Homo sapiens: one gene and its partners. The protein of the gene in region 2 purifies or fractionates together with the protein of the main gene of each other region. This does not show direct contact. Each region holds a gene or a part of one and is shown on either strand. Other genes may lie near its edges.

Region 1 (3,625 bases), on a different chromosome or scaffold from region 2:
TGGGAACTGGAGTAAAAGTGACTCTTGTTATGTATTAGCAAAGGTACTGGCAACATTTTGCCCCTGCCCTAGAGATTTGTGGAACTTTGAACTTCAGAAAGATGATTTAGGGTATCTGGCAGAAGAAATTTCTAAGCAGCAAAGCACTCAAGAGGTGATTTGGGTACTGTTAAAGGCACTCAGTTTTATAAGGGAAGCAGAGCATAGAAGTTTGGAAAATTAGCAGCCTGACTATGCAGTAGAAAAGAAAAACGCATTTTCTGTGGAGAAATTCAAGCTGGCTGCAGAAATCTGCGTAAGTATCAAGGAGCCTAATGTTAATCCCCTAGACCGTGGGGAAAATGTCTCCAGGCTATGTCAAAGACCTTCATGGCAGCCCCTCCCAGCACAGGCCCGGAGGCCCAGGAAGGAAAAAAGGTTTCGTGGGCCCGGCCCAGGGTCCCCGCGCTGTGTGCAGCCTAGGGACTTGGTGCCCTGTATCCCAGCCACTCCAGCCATGGCTGAAAGGGGCCAACTTACAGCTTGGGCTGTGGCTTCAGAGGGTGGAAGCCTCAAGCCTTGGTAGCTTCCATATGGTGTTGAGCCTGTGGGTACACAGAAGTCAAGAATTGAGGTTTGGGAACCTGTGCCTAGATTTCAGAAGATATATGGAAACTCTTGGACGCCCTGGCAAAAGTTTGCTGCAGGGGTGGGGCCCTCATGGGGAACTTCTGCTAGGACAGTGTGGAAGGGAATTGTGGGGTCAGAGCCCCCATACAGAGTCCCTACTGGGGCACTGCCTAGTGGAGCTGAGAGAAGAGGGCCACCACCCTCCAGGCCCCAGAATGGCAGATCTGACAACAGCTTGTACTGTGTGCCTGGAAAATCCACAGACACTCAATGCCAGCCCGTGAAAGCAGCTGGGAGGGAGGGTTTACCTTGCAAAGCCACAGGGGTGGAGCTATCCAAGACCATAGGAACCCACCTCTTGCATCAGTGTGACCTGGATGTGAGATCTGGAGTCAAAGGAGATCATTTCGGAGCTTTAACATTTGACTGCCCCGCTGGATTTCGGACTTGCATGGGCCCTGTAACCCCTTTGTTTTGGCCAATTTCTCCCATTTGGAATGGCTATATTTACTCAATACCTGTACCCCCATTATACCTAGGAAGTAAATAGCTTTCTTTTGATTTTACAGGCTCATAGGCAGAAAGGACTTAACTTGTCTTAGATGAGACTTTGGACTGTGGACTTTTGAGTTAATGCTGAAATGAATTAAGACTTTGGGGGACTGTTGGGAAGGCATGATTGGTTTTGAAATGTGAGGACATGAGATTTGGAGGGGCCAGGGGCAGAATGGTACAGTTTGACTGTGTGCCCACCAAAATCTCAACTTGAATGATATCTCCCATAATTCCTATGTGTTATGAGAGGGACCCAGGGGAAGGTAATTGAATCTTGGGGGGTGGTCTTTCCCATGCTATTCTCATGACAATGAATAAGTCTCATGAGATCTGATGGGTTTATCAGGGGTTTCCGCTTTTGCTTCTTCCTCATTCTGTCTTGCCACTGCCATGTAAGAAGTGCTTTTTGCCTTCCACCATGATTCTGAGGCCTCCCCAGCCATTCTGCAACTGTAAAGTCCAATTAAACCTCTTTCTCTTCCCAGTCTTGGGTATGTCTTTATTGGCAGTGTGAAAACAGACTAATACACTGATCTTTGATGCCTTAACTCTTGTATGTTCAACTGAAGAGATACAATTGTGGAGGAGAAGAAACATAAGATTTAGTCAGAAGACCTGTTCTGTAACTAGCTATGTGTCTATGTACAGATTGTATAGCCTCTCAAAACTCCTGTTTCCTTAATTGTAAAAGAGGGAAAACTTACCAAATTACTTTCTCTAATGAGATTGTGTAAAAACTTCAATTCATAAAATATGAAACAAAGAATGGCTATTTACTATTTATTTAGCACAGTGCCTGCCTGGAACATAGTAAGCTTTTAGTTTAAAAAGATTTTTGTTTAACCAATACTTAATTTATGTAGTGTTTACTAGGTGCCAGGCACTATGTACCTTGTAAATGTTAATTAAGTTAATCCTCATAAAAGCCCTAAGAAGTAGGTAGTATCATCATCCCTATTTTACAGATGAGGAAACCTAGACACTGAGAGTCAAGTAACTTCTCAAAGTCAGATGGCTAAGTGGGAGAGATCTGGGATCTGAACCCAGGTCATCTGGCTCTAGAATCTGTGTTCTTAACTACACCACACTACCTTTCAAATGTTAAATGAACATGGATGGTCTGTCAGGGAAGGACTTGCTTGTAGCATCAACCTGACCAAATAGAACAGGAGGAATGGTAGCTCATAATTGCACATTTCCAGTTGAACAGTGAGACTCAGAGTATTAGAAAGTAGTAACTCTAAGCCAAAAATTAGGAGTGTGGGGGAATTTAACTTTGAGTCCTAGTATCTTTTGGTGTTCTGGTAGCACTCCTGTATGGACAAAAATCCTCTCTATCATAAGTTGTAAAATAAGGCTTAAACTGTACACATAAAACTTAAAAGTTTGGCTTCAATAAACAGTATCTATTTTAACTTGTTCATTTTTGTCTTCCTTTCCAGGTATTTTTTTTTCTGAAGGAAAGCTGCTTCCTCATATGTTTCAAGAATGGCTCTCCCTATCATTGTAAAATGGGGTGGACAGGAGTATTCAGTGACCACACTTTCAGAAGATGATACTGTGCTCGATCTCAAACAGTTTCTCAAGACCCTTACAGGAGTTCTTCCAGAACGCCAAAAGTTACTTGGACTCAAAGTTAAAGGTAATTCTCTCCCCTCTTCAGATTTTTTGCATTGAATTTTTAGTATTATGAATTTTAATAATTATTTTGAATATAATTGTTTAATAATTTATACTTGCTATTTGTAGTTTAGTAAGTCTCTCCCTTTCGAGATTTCTCTGGTAGAAATATTCTTAAAATTGTTTTAGTGGTAAAAGTAAGAATATTAAAGTGTTCTCGAAAATACCATGATTATTAAGATTACTTTTGATGTTTTAGACAGTCAGTATTTGCTTGTTAAACCTTTGGCACAGAAGTCCCGGATGAAACTCATTTATTTTCTGACATCTACCTTTTAGCACAGTGTTTCGTTGTAACGAGGGCCTCGTACTCTTCCCAAATTATCTTTTCTGTTTCAAAAGTAAAGACAACATTTAAAAATTACAGGCAGCATTCATATCCAGTTTAAAAGGGATTTTTTTTATGGTGTTTTGTGATTATCATATTGAAGAGTGAGTTTTGAGTAACAGTAAATCTGCAGTTTTCTTAGGCACTCAATTTTTAAGGCTTCCTGGAAAACAGTAATATTCATCTTGAACAACAGAATAAAACATGAATTAATTTTGTTTAGGTAGTTGAATAAAGGTGTTCATCTAACATAGAATTGGGGAGAAAATAACCCTTGTATTAATTTTGACTTCTTCGTGTCTTAGATATGACTAATTCAGCAGAAACAATTTGTTAATGTAGGAAAAAACAAAACAACAAAAATTGCTGTGACATCTGTACCAAACCTTTTAATGTTAGGGTTTTATATAATGGAATAGTGAAACCAGCACCTGAACTTTAGTGAGAAAACAG
Region 2 (3,625 bases):
TGTGAACCAATTACATGTAAGATACTCAATTGGGATTTTCACAAAAATACAATTTCCTAAAACAAGTTCAGGGAAACTAAAGCCCTATCTACCAGAACCACAAGCCTGGATATCTATAGACAGATAACAAAAGGAAAACTTAAGGTTACTGCACAAATCACAAAATCAATTAAATTGATGTCCAATTATTTTCCTGCCATTTTATAAAACTTCAAAAGTAATACAAATTTACAGTAAAATACCACCAACACTTGCTAAAATGGCAATTGGTAAACTTGAATAATACATTTTTCATCACTAAACCCTTGTTTAATGACAAATTATTGACAAAAATTTAAAACTAAAGTCCAAACATACGTATCATATACTTAGTAAGAGATTCAATATACAGCTTAGCATCCAACTCCACAATTTCCAGAAAGAAAAACATCATCTCCTTCCTTATTCAATTTGATAACTGAAAGATTCATAAGATAAGAGAACACTATTCACCAATAAAAGTTTATTCTTTTTCCCATCCTGTATCAAGCTTTTGTATCAGGATATGAACTTACATTTGTAAAAGTCTAAAGATAAAGAAATAAACCCGTTTGGTTCAGTTGAGCTATAAACATTAAGAAATCCTGAACTGCGATTGTAAGTATAATTAACCTAAAATCTTTCAAATCACATATTTCAAATTGCATTCTAAGCAACAATATGTTAGACACAGGGGCCACTGGCTGTGTTCTAAGAAATGATAATGCTAAAAAAGCAATATAAGATTTAAATTATAATTGTATTATAAATATTAATTTTACCACCCTAAAATTGTAATATACTTGCAAACTAAAGTATAATACAGAAAAGCTCACCTTCATCCACAGAAAACTGACAGCTCTTATCATTGAAGAAAAGTATTTTCTTCTTATCGGGACGATTTACAAATAGTATCTGGTCCCCCAAAGCCTTAAAGATAGATAAAATAAAGATTTTTCAGTTAACTCCAAATTACCTCACCAAAAAAAAAAAAAATTTAAACAATAAAGGAGTTTCATTTCCTTAACACACTCAGTATACCACCATAGGGTCCTCCACCATAGGTCCACTGGACCCAATTTTAGTTTTAGTTTTGTTTTTAAGAGACTCCACCCAGACTGGAGTGCAGCTCACTGCAGCCTCAACCTCCCAGGCTCAAGCAATCCTCCCACCTCAGCCTCTGGAGTAACTGGGACCACTGGTGCATTGCCACCACGTCTAGCTAATGTTTTCAATTTTTTGTAGACAAAGGGTCTCACTATGTTGCCAGGGCTGGTCTTGAACTCCTGGGCTCAAGCGATCTTCCCACCTCAGCATCAGAAAGTACAGGGACTATAGGTGTGAGCCACTGCACTCAGCCCCAATTTTAGTTTTTGAGTTTCTTTCTTGAGTAGTTCAATTTTTTAAAAATTGATATTTCCAGACTTGTATTCTTAGAGGTCTTCCAAAGAACAAAAATAAAACGTGTTTCACTTAAAACGGAAAATTCAATCTTTGCTGCAATTACTATTTGGGTCCATGGGGCTCTTTCACTAATCTAAGACACATAATAGAATCTTGGTGTTCTTACTTTTCCTCTACCTTGAGATATTTCGCTCCTTACTCATCATTACCCATCAATTATTTCCAATTGTGCTTTTAAAACGCTAAAATAATAAGAAAATAGAAGAATGATTAAATCACCTAGAAATGTGATGCAATAGTGAAATACATGGGCATCCTTCAGTTTTCTTACTGCATTGCCCAAAGGATTACATTACTCCTTTTCAAGAGATATAAAAGATTGGAAGAGTCTTCTTGTTGTCTTTTAACTTTCATTGAGTACACCTGACAAAAAAAATTTTGTATTTTCTACCCTTGAGAGCAAAGACAAGAAAACTGACCAAAGACATTTCACAATTATTAGATGAATCAAAATATGAATGCAAAAAGCCAAATAGCAGCACTCTAGACTATCTGGCAAAAATTCATCATAGGAATAAAGTCTCAAGCTATGGAGTCTTTAGATGACAATAACTCAAGTGAAGATTCTCAAGCTTAAGAATCAACAAGCGAACAAAATGCTTCTCAATACAAAATGGAAACAATATTCTCATCCCGTTATTCACCAGAAGATTATCACACAGTATTTTGTGAAAAGAATCTTTATCATCTCACTTTGCTAAAAGGATATATGACAGTATTCTTCTTTTTGATGTGTTTTCCAAAAATTACTTGATACAGAAGTTTGCTGTGTTAAATTCTTACTAAAATCTCTAATAAAGCTGTTTTCATCATCCCATTATTCTTACTTATGTAAATTATTCATAAAATGACTTAAAGTAGCTTAAAAATAATAGTCCACTAGATCAAGGTGGTAAAAGGTGATAACTACAGGATGAGCAACCCAAATCCCAAAATCTCGAATCCAAAATCCAAAACTTTTTAAGTGCTGACATGACATGCCAAAGAAATACTTACTGGGGGCCAGGTGTGATGGCTCACACCTATAATCCCAGCACTTTGGGAGGCAGGAGGATCATTTGGGGTCAGGAGTTTGTTTGTTTTGAGACGGAGTCTCACTCTGTCAACCAGGCTGGAGTGCAGTGACGCGATCTTGGCTCACTGCAAGCTCCGCACGGTGGCTCACGCCATTCTCCTGCCTCAGCCTCCCGAGTAGCTGGGACTACAGGTGCCCGCCACCACGCCCGGCTAATTTTTTGTACTTTTTAGTAGAGACAGCGTTTCACCATGTTAGCCAGGACGGTCTCAATCTCCTGACCTCGTGATCCACCCGCCTCGGCCTCCCAAAGTGCTGGGATTACAGGCGTGAGCCACTGCACTCGGCCGAGGTCAGGAGTTTTGAGACCAGCCTGGTCAACATGGTGAAACCCCATCTCTACTAAAAATAGAAAAATTAGCTGAACACGGTGGCAGGTGTCTGTAATCCCAGCTACTTGGGAGGCTGAGACAGGAGAATCTCTTAAACCAAGGAGACAGAGGTTGCAGTGAGCTGAGATCACCCCACTGCACACCAGCCAGGGCAACAGAAAGAGACTCCGCCTCAAAAAAAAAAAAAAAGAGAAAGAAAGAAAGAAAGAAATACTCACTGGAGCATTTTGGATTTCAGATTTTCAACTCTGGAATGTTTAAACTGGTATAATGAAAATATCCCAAAATTTGAAAAAAATCCCAAAATCTGAAACAGTTCTGGTCCCAAGCATTACAGATAAGGGACAGTCAAATTGTACATACATAAAATAAATGAAAGAACCTGAAGGCATTGCTAAAAAAAATTAAAGACATGAATAAATGAATTCTGTGCTCATGTATTAAAAAACTTAATACAGTTACGATGGCAATACTACCCAAAGTTACCTATTCAAGGTAATCCCTATCAAAATCCCAATGGCATTTTTTGCAGAAATGGAAAAATCCATCCAAAAATTTATATCAAATCTCAAGGGACCTCAAAAAGCCTGAAATGGTTTAGATCTGTGTCCCCATCAAATCTCATGTCAAACTGTAATCCCCAATGTTGGAGGTGGGGCCTGGTGGGCGGTGACTGGTATGAAGGTGGATTTCCCTCTTGGTGCTGTTCTCCTGATAATGAGTTCTCATGAGATCT
Region 3 (2,828 bases), on a different chromosome or scaffold from region 2:
AATTTTTTTTTTTCAAGTAAACACAAATATGTATATAGGACTTTCTTCTTCCTATCCAAATCAAACTTTTAAAGACAAAACTTGAGTTTTTAAAGGGTCATTTTAACACTTCTTTTTGAATTTTTTAATTTATATATAATTCACATACCATAAATTTCACACTCATAAAGTATGTACACTTTAAGTGGTATATTAACAAAGTTTTGGAACCTTCCCTGCTACCTGGTTCGAGAACATTTTCATCACCACAAAAAGAAAGTCAGTATCCATTAGTAGCCATCCCCCATTTTCCCCCCACAGGCCCCTCCCAACCACTAATCTCCTCTCGTTATGGACTTCTCAATTCTGGACATTTCATATAAATGGAATCATACAATATGTGGCCTTTTCATGGTTCATACATGTTGTAACCTGCATCAGCATGTCATTTCTTTTTTATGCCGGAATAATAGCCCACTGTACGGAAAGAAACACATTTTGTTCATTCATCTATCAGTTGATAGACATTGGGTTGCTTTCACTTTTGAGCTATGATGAGCAATGCTGCTATAAAATTTCTTGTATGTTTCTGTGTAGACATATGTTTTCATTTCTGTATACCTGGTGACTACCAAACCTATTTCTAAAACAGCTGCACCATTTTACTTTACCACCATCAGTGTTTAAGAGTTCAGTTTCTCCACATCCTCAGTAATACTTGTCATTGTCTGCCTTTTTGATGATGGCCATCCTGGTGGTATCTTGTCGTGGTTTTGATTTGCATTTCCTTAATGATGATTTGAGCATATTTCCATGTGCTTATTGGTGCCTCGTCTGTCTTCTTTTGAGAAATCTCTGTTCAGGTTCTTTGCCCACCCCCCCCGCCCTCTTTTTGCAAACTCTGCCTCCCGGATTCAAGCAATTCTCCTGCCTCAGCCTCTTGAGTAGCTGGGATTACAGGCGTGCACTACCACACCCGGCTAATTTTTCTTTTTTTGTATTTTTAGTGGAGACGGGGTTTCACCATGTTGGCCAGGCTGGTCTCGAATTCCTGACCTTGTGATGCACCCGCCTCGGCCTCCCAAAGTGCTGGAATTACAGGCGTGAGCCACCACACCTGGCCTTCACTTTCTTCATAGTTTTTTGAAACACAAAAGCTTTTCTTCTTGATAAGTCCAATTTTTCTATTTTTTTTTTAACGGTCACTTATGTTCTTAATGTTATACCTAAGAAACCATTACCTAATCCAACTACATGGAAACTACTTTGTTTTTGAAAACCTTATGAAATAATATAGTAGAAGAAATTGCATTCTCGATTTTGTCTTGGTAGGCTTTGGAAGTGATAAAGCAGTTAAAAGAGAAAATGAAGATAGAACGTGCTCACATGAGGCTTCGGTTCATCCTTCCAGTCAATGAAGGCAAGAAGCTGAAAGAAAAGCTCAAGCCACTGATCAAGGTCATAGAAAGTGAAGATTATGGCCAACAGTTAGAAATCGTAAGAGTCAAATATTTTCTTTGCTTCATGTTACCTAAATATTGTATTCTCTAGTAATAAATTTGTAGCAAACATTTAGATGTTGTAAACGTCAGATATTTTCTTTTCTTTTTTTTTTTTGAGATGGAGTCTCGCTCTGTTGCCCAGGCTGGAGTGCAGTGGTGCTATCTCAGCTCACTGCAAGCTCCGCCTCCCGGGTACACGCCATTCTCCTGCCTCAGCCTCCTGTGTAGCTGGGACTACAGGCACCCGCCACCAAGCCTGGCTAATTTTTCGTATTTTTTAGTAGAGACGGAGTTTCACCGTGTTAGCCAGGACGGTCTTGATCTCCTGACCTCATGATCCACCTGCCTCAGCCTCCCAAAGTGCAGGGATTACAGGCGTGAGCCACCGCGCCCAGCCAGATATTTTCTTAAGACTAAAGGTTGGTCAGCCTTGTTTACCACAAATCCTTTTATTTTTTTCCCAGCATTTATTTTTGTCATATATTATGCGTAGTGTTTTAGATACATGATTTTAGCAAATTTAGCAACTATTTAAAATAAGCCACTTAAAAATTGCTATTTTAGTGGAAGATTGATAATTCCAATTACCTTAAAAATTTTGCAAAAATTAGTACAAAGCACACTATGGAAATTTACATTGAGTTTTCAGAGATAGCTCAATTGCATGCTTTACTCCAGTGCTGATCATAATCCTAAAAGACAATCCCAAATGCCACAATCCCAATGTTGAAATCATAAAAAAATCAAAATCTCTAAAGTCCAAAGCCTGAACTTCTAATATCTTGAAAATCACAGTTCCAAAAGATTGAATCCTGGCTGGGCGCGGTGGCTCATGCCTGTAATCCCAGCACTTTGGGAGGCCAAGGCAGGTGGATCACCTGAGGTCGGGAGTTCGAGACCAGTCTGACCAACATGGAGAAACCCTGTCTCTACTAAAAATACAAAATAGTCTGGCGTGGTGGCACATGCCTGTAATCCCAGCTACTCGGGAGGCTGAGGCAGGAGAATCACTTGAACCTGGAAGGCAGAGGTTGCGGTGAGCCAAGATTGCACCATTGCACTCCAGCCTGGGCAACAAGAGCGAAACTCCATCTCAAAAAAAAAAAAAAAAGATTGAATTCTGAATGATGAAATTCTGAAAGCTGAATTCTGGCAAAAGGATTAGCACTCTTTGAGTTGTATGCAGGATAGTCGCGTCTGGTTAATTGCATCATGTGAGGAAAAGCTAGGACCTTGTTATTGTCTTCATTTGAAAATTAAAAATGGTTTAAAGAGATGAGTCTGGGTGCCAAGTTGATAAGGGGTGGAATTGTGGATGTAATTTTAGGTGTCAACTTGACTGGAAAG
Region 4 (3,625 bases), on a different chromosome or scaffold from region 2:
TTCTAATAGTCACATTTAAAAAGTAAAGACACAGGTGAAATTACTTTTAGTAATATATTTTATTTAACCCAAACATATCCAAAATATTATCATTTCAATATATAATCAACAGGAAAGAATAGATAATTTACATTATTTATTAAGTCTTTGAAATCCAGGGTGTATTTTAGTTACAGCACATCTTAATTCAAACTAGTCACATTTCAAGTTCTCAGTGGCCACATATGGATGGGCAGAGGCTACCATATTAGATAGCATAGGTCTAAGCAAGTCCAGAAGTATGAGACCCCCCAATAGCTAAACATGAATGGGAGAAAACTTAGTTTCTTCTAAAAGTTGTATTTATTTTTCTGATTTTCTTGAATGCAATGGAAACTGCAACCTGACTTTTAGCAAGCCCCAGGCCATCTCCTTGCATGACTTTAATCACTGGATTTTTCTTCCCAAAAATTAAATCATTGGATCCGGAGCAAAATGTAGATTAGGCCCCTCAATGTTTTTTCCCTTAAATTATAACTGAACCCAAACTCTTCCTGTCATTAATTTTAATATCTTTTTTTTTTTTTTAGACGGAGTCTTGCTCTGTCGCCCAGGCTGGAGTGCAGTGGCACAATCTCGGCTCACTGCAACCTCCGCCTCCCAGGTTCAAGCAAATCTCCTGCCTCAGCCTCCTGTGTAGCTGGGATTACAGGCACGCGCCACCACGCCCGGCTAATTTTTTTTTTTTTTTTTTTTTTTGTATTTTTAGTAGAGACAGGATTTCACCATGTTGGCCAGGGTGGTCTCAATCTTCTGACCTCATGATCCACCCACCTTGGCTCCCAAAGTGCTGGGATTACAGGCACGCGCCACCATGCCCAGCTAATTTTTGTTTTTTGTTTGGTTGGTTTTTGAGACGGAGTTTCGCTCTGTTGTCCAGGCTGGAATGCAGTGGTGCGATCTCAGCTCACTGCAAGCTCCGCCTCCCGGGTTCATGCCACTCTCCTGCCTCAGCCTCCCGAGTAGCTGGGACTACAGGCGCCCACCACTGCGTCCGGTTAATTTTTTGTATTTTTAGTATAGACGGGGTTTCACGTTAGCCAGGATGGTCTCGATCTCCTGACCTCGTGATCCGCCCACCTTGGCCTCCCAAAGTACTGGGATTACAGGCGTGAACCACCGTGCCCGGCCTTCCCCAGATATCTTCAAAGCAACTGCTAGTCCTGCTTTTGCACATTACACTCTACATTCTCATTGCCCCACTTAACTAACCCTCCCTCATGTCCTTTTCTAAAGATGTAGAAGACTTTGAAATAGCATAACATTTAAATGGTCACAAATCACCTGGCTTGAAAGTGACTAATAATAGGAAAATCAGACCTCAGGACTGAGTTCAATTTCAAGATTCTCCCACTCCACTTTGCTAAGAGGGAAACAGAAAAACATTACTCCAGCCACACAAATATGATACTGTGCAAGTATCCCACTCTTACTCATTCAAATCCTACCCATTTTTTCCCATCGTGGAACAGAGTCTTGCCAACTTATACCTCTCTCCAATAACCCATAAAGATGGTGATTTGAATTTGGGCCAAGATTTAACATTTTATGAAATACAAGAGGAGAGTTTTCTGCAAAACACAGGATTTGCAGACAAGGAGACTTAGGTTCAAATTCCAGTTCTGCCATTTATTACCTCAGAGAGGTCATACAACTTTCCTGAAGTTGTATGACCTCTCTGAGCCTTAGTCTCCTCGTTTGTAAAATGAGAGTTAAAATCTACCTCATGGAATCATTGCTAAGATTAAGCAAGATATATAAGTAGAGCTTGTGCACATGGTAGGTACTTGGAGAATGTTATTTCTCCTTCCCTCTTACTCATCTGGACAAGTTTAACTAGAATTCTAAACAGTTAAATATGTATCAATCCTTTGTATTAAATATCTTGATGGTAAAATGTTAAAATATTGATGTGAATAACAGCTGGTATTGAATATTCAAATTAGGGGAACTCTTTCATTGTTTTAAGATAACATCTGTACATTTAATCTGTGCCATGCAATAAAACAGCTTTTCCTGAAACAGCTTTTTAAAAACTATTTTTAAGAAATTCATAAGTTACTTTTAAGAACATTAGCTTAGAACATCTTCCCCTTTCACAACAAATTAGACATTAGAGCCAAAATTGCCCAAATTGGTATAGTTTCTATCTCCCTACACTTTAATCAAGATGTTTGTCTTTATATCAGCAAAAACCGCTACTTAAGTGAGATTCCTGCATCCCAATAAATGTATCTGGGCATTTGGTACTTGAGAGAGGATTGGGTTTGACAACACCCAGAAGCTAATGAGGATGTGCCTTCTCTCAGACCTTTGCATTCAGGAGCAAGAAAGCAGAAATACTTTGTGGACTCCTTTTCAGACACTTTACAAAATACAAAATTTTAACCTTGTGAAACACAAAATAAATGCAGGATAAATGTCCAAACATTTTAGCCCCTACTGTTTTTGAAACTGAATAAAGCCATGATAGTGAAAAATATTTTCCAGTCAGTGCTTTTTGGAAGCTATTTAGTAGATATTAATTTGATGGGTTAGAGATTGCTATTATCCCATTAAATGAAGCTGTTTCTACTTCATATTCAAATATATTTCAAGTTGAACTTGCTTAAATCTAAAATGCTTACACAAGCAAACTGTGGAAAGAATTTAGTCACGCAAAAGAAAACTTTTTCTTAATCCTGGATAAGTCAACTCTAAGAAAGCTGTCCAGAGCCTACAGAGCAAAAAGGACTTTCCTTCCAGCCTCCTCACCATGTCCAATCTAGTCCAGATGTGAAGAGTCAATTTTGGTTTTAAACAAAATTTGCATGCAGCAGCATTAGAACTAATGAAAACAGTATCCAGACTAAGACGTGCATACAAAATCTTTCACATCATGAGAAACTAAAAATTTGTTAAAACATCAGTCGGCAGGAACAGACATCTCAAGCTCCACTGATAAGGGAAGCAAAACTGGAACTACATGCCGCTTTTAAAAGTGTCTCAAATTTAAGCTCACTCAAGGACTATTAATAGACAGTGTCAAACTGACATGCCGTTTCATCATTAAATCATCTTATTGGTTTGCAAGTTTCCAAGCCTCAGGGCTTCATTATGCATCAGCATAGGACAACACCAGAATTTGGGGACAAAGACAACATCCCTTTTTGAAAGAGGTGGTAAGAATAAAAACAGGTTGGCCAACCTTGGAAGCCACCGCAGTATGGCTTCCCATGAACCAAAAAGGCAATTGAATTGTATTTGTTTTCAAGGCATACGTTTGGAAAAATAGCACTTTTTCCAAGCATGTGCTTAGTTAGAACAAATGATTTATTGCTTAAAACCCAGTCTTTTACTCACACGCTTGTGAAAATAAGAAGAAATTACCTATTTCACCATAGATTATTAAATGGACGTTAACAGTTATTGACAATCGAGTCTTGTGATAAGAAATTAAAATTATAAAGTAAATCTTCCCGTCTTTAAATTCTAGGTGGTAGAGTTCTGAGAACACTTACAATGAACTTTAAGGGAGTAATTGATTATGCTTTTGAAGTCTCCTATATTCACATATTGGCTGAAAGTAAAGCATTTTAAAATTGGA

Evidence for each region.
Region 1: the proteins of GTF2E2 (region 2) and UBLCP1 purify together in Homo sapiens (affinity purification with mass spectrometry; 2 studies listed by BioGRID and IntAct, with this or other methods). This does not show direct contact.
Region 3: the proteins of GTF2E2 (region 2) and SBDS purify together in Homo sapiens (affinity purification with mass spectrometry; 2 studies listed by BioGRID and IntAct, with this or other methods). This does not show direct contact.
Region 4: the proteins of GTF2E2 (region 2) and MCTS1 purify together in Homo sapiens (affinity purification with mass spectrometry; 2 studies listed by BioGRID and IntAct, with this or other methods). This does not show direct contact.

The regions. Positions count from the first base shown.
Region 1 is NC_000005.10:159,266,264-159,269,888, forward strand, and holds part of UBLCP1 (ubiquitin-like domain-containing CTD phosphatase 1), read left to right. Parts: intron 1-2,606; 5' UTR 2,607-2,652; coding exon 2,653-2,806; intron 2,807-3,625. UniProt on the Homo sapiens protein: Dephosphorylates 26S nuclear proteasomes, thereby decreasing their proteolytic activity. Recruited to the 19S regulatory particle of the 26S proteasome through its interaction with 19S component PSMD2/RPN1.
Region 2 is NC_000008.11:30,606,203-30,609,827, forward strand, and holds part of GTF2E2 (transcription initiation factor IIE subunit beta), read right to left. Parts: intron 949-3,625; coding exon 855-948; intron 1-854. UniProt on the Homo sapiens protein: Recruits TFIIH to the initiation complex and stimulates the RNA polymerase II C-terminal domain kinase and DNA-dependent ATPase activities of TFIIH. Both TFIIH and TFIIE are required for promoter clearance by RNA polymerase.
Region 3 is NC_000007.14:66,989,785-66,992,612, reverse strand, and holds part of SBDS (ribosome maturation protein SBDS), read left to right. Parts: intron 1-1,311; coding exon 1,312-1,476; intron 1,477-2,828. UniProt on the Homo sapiens protein: Required for the assembly of mature ribosomes and ribosome biogenesis.
Region 4 is NC_000023.11:120,617,575-120,621,199, reverse strand, and holds the end of MCTS1 (malignant T-cell-amplified sequence 1), read right to left. Parts: 3' UTR 41-3,625; downstream 1-40. UniProt on the Homo sapiens protein: Translation regulator forming a complex with DENR to promote translation reinitiation.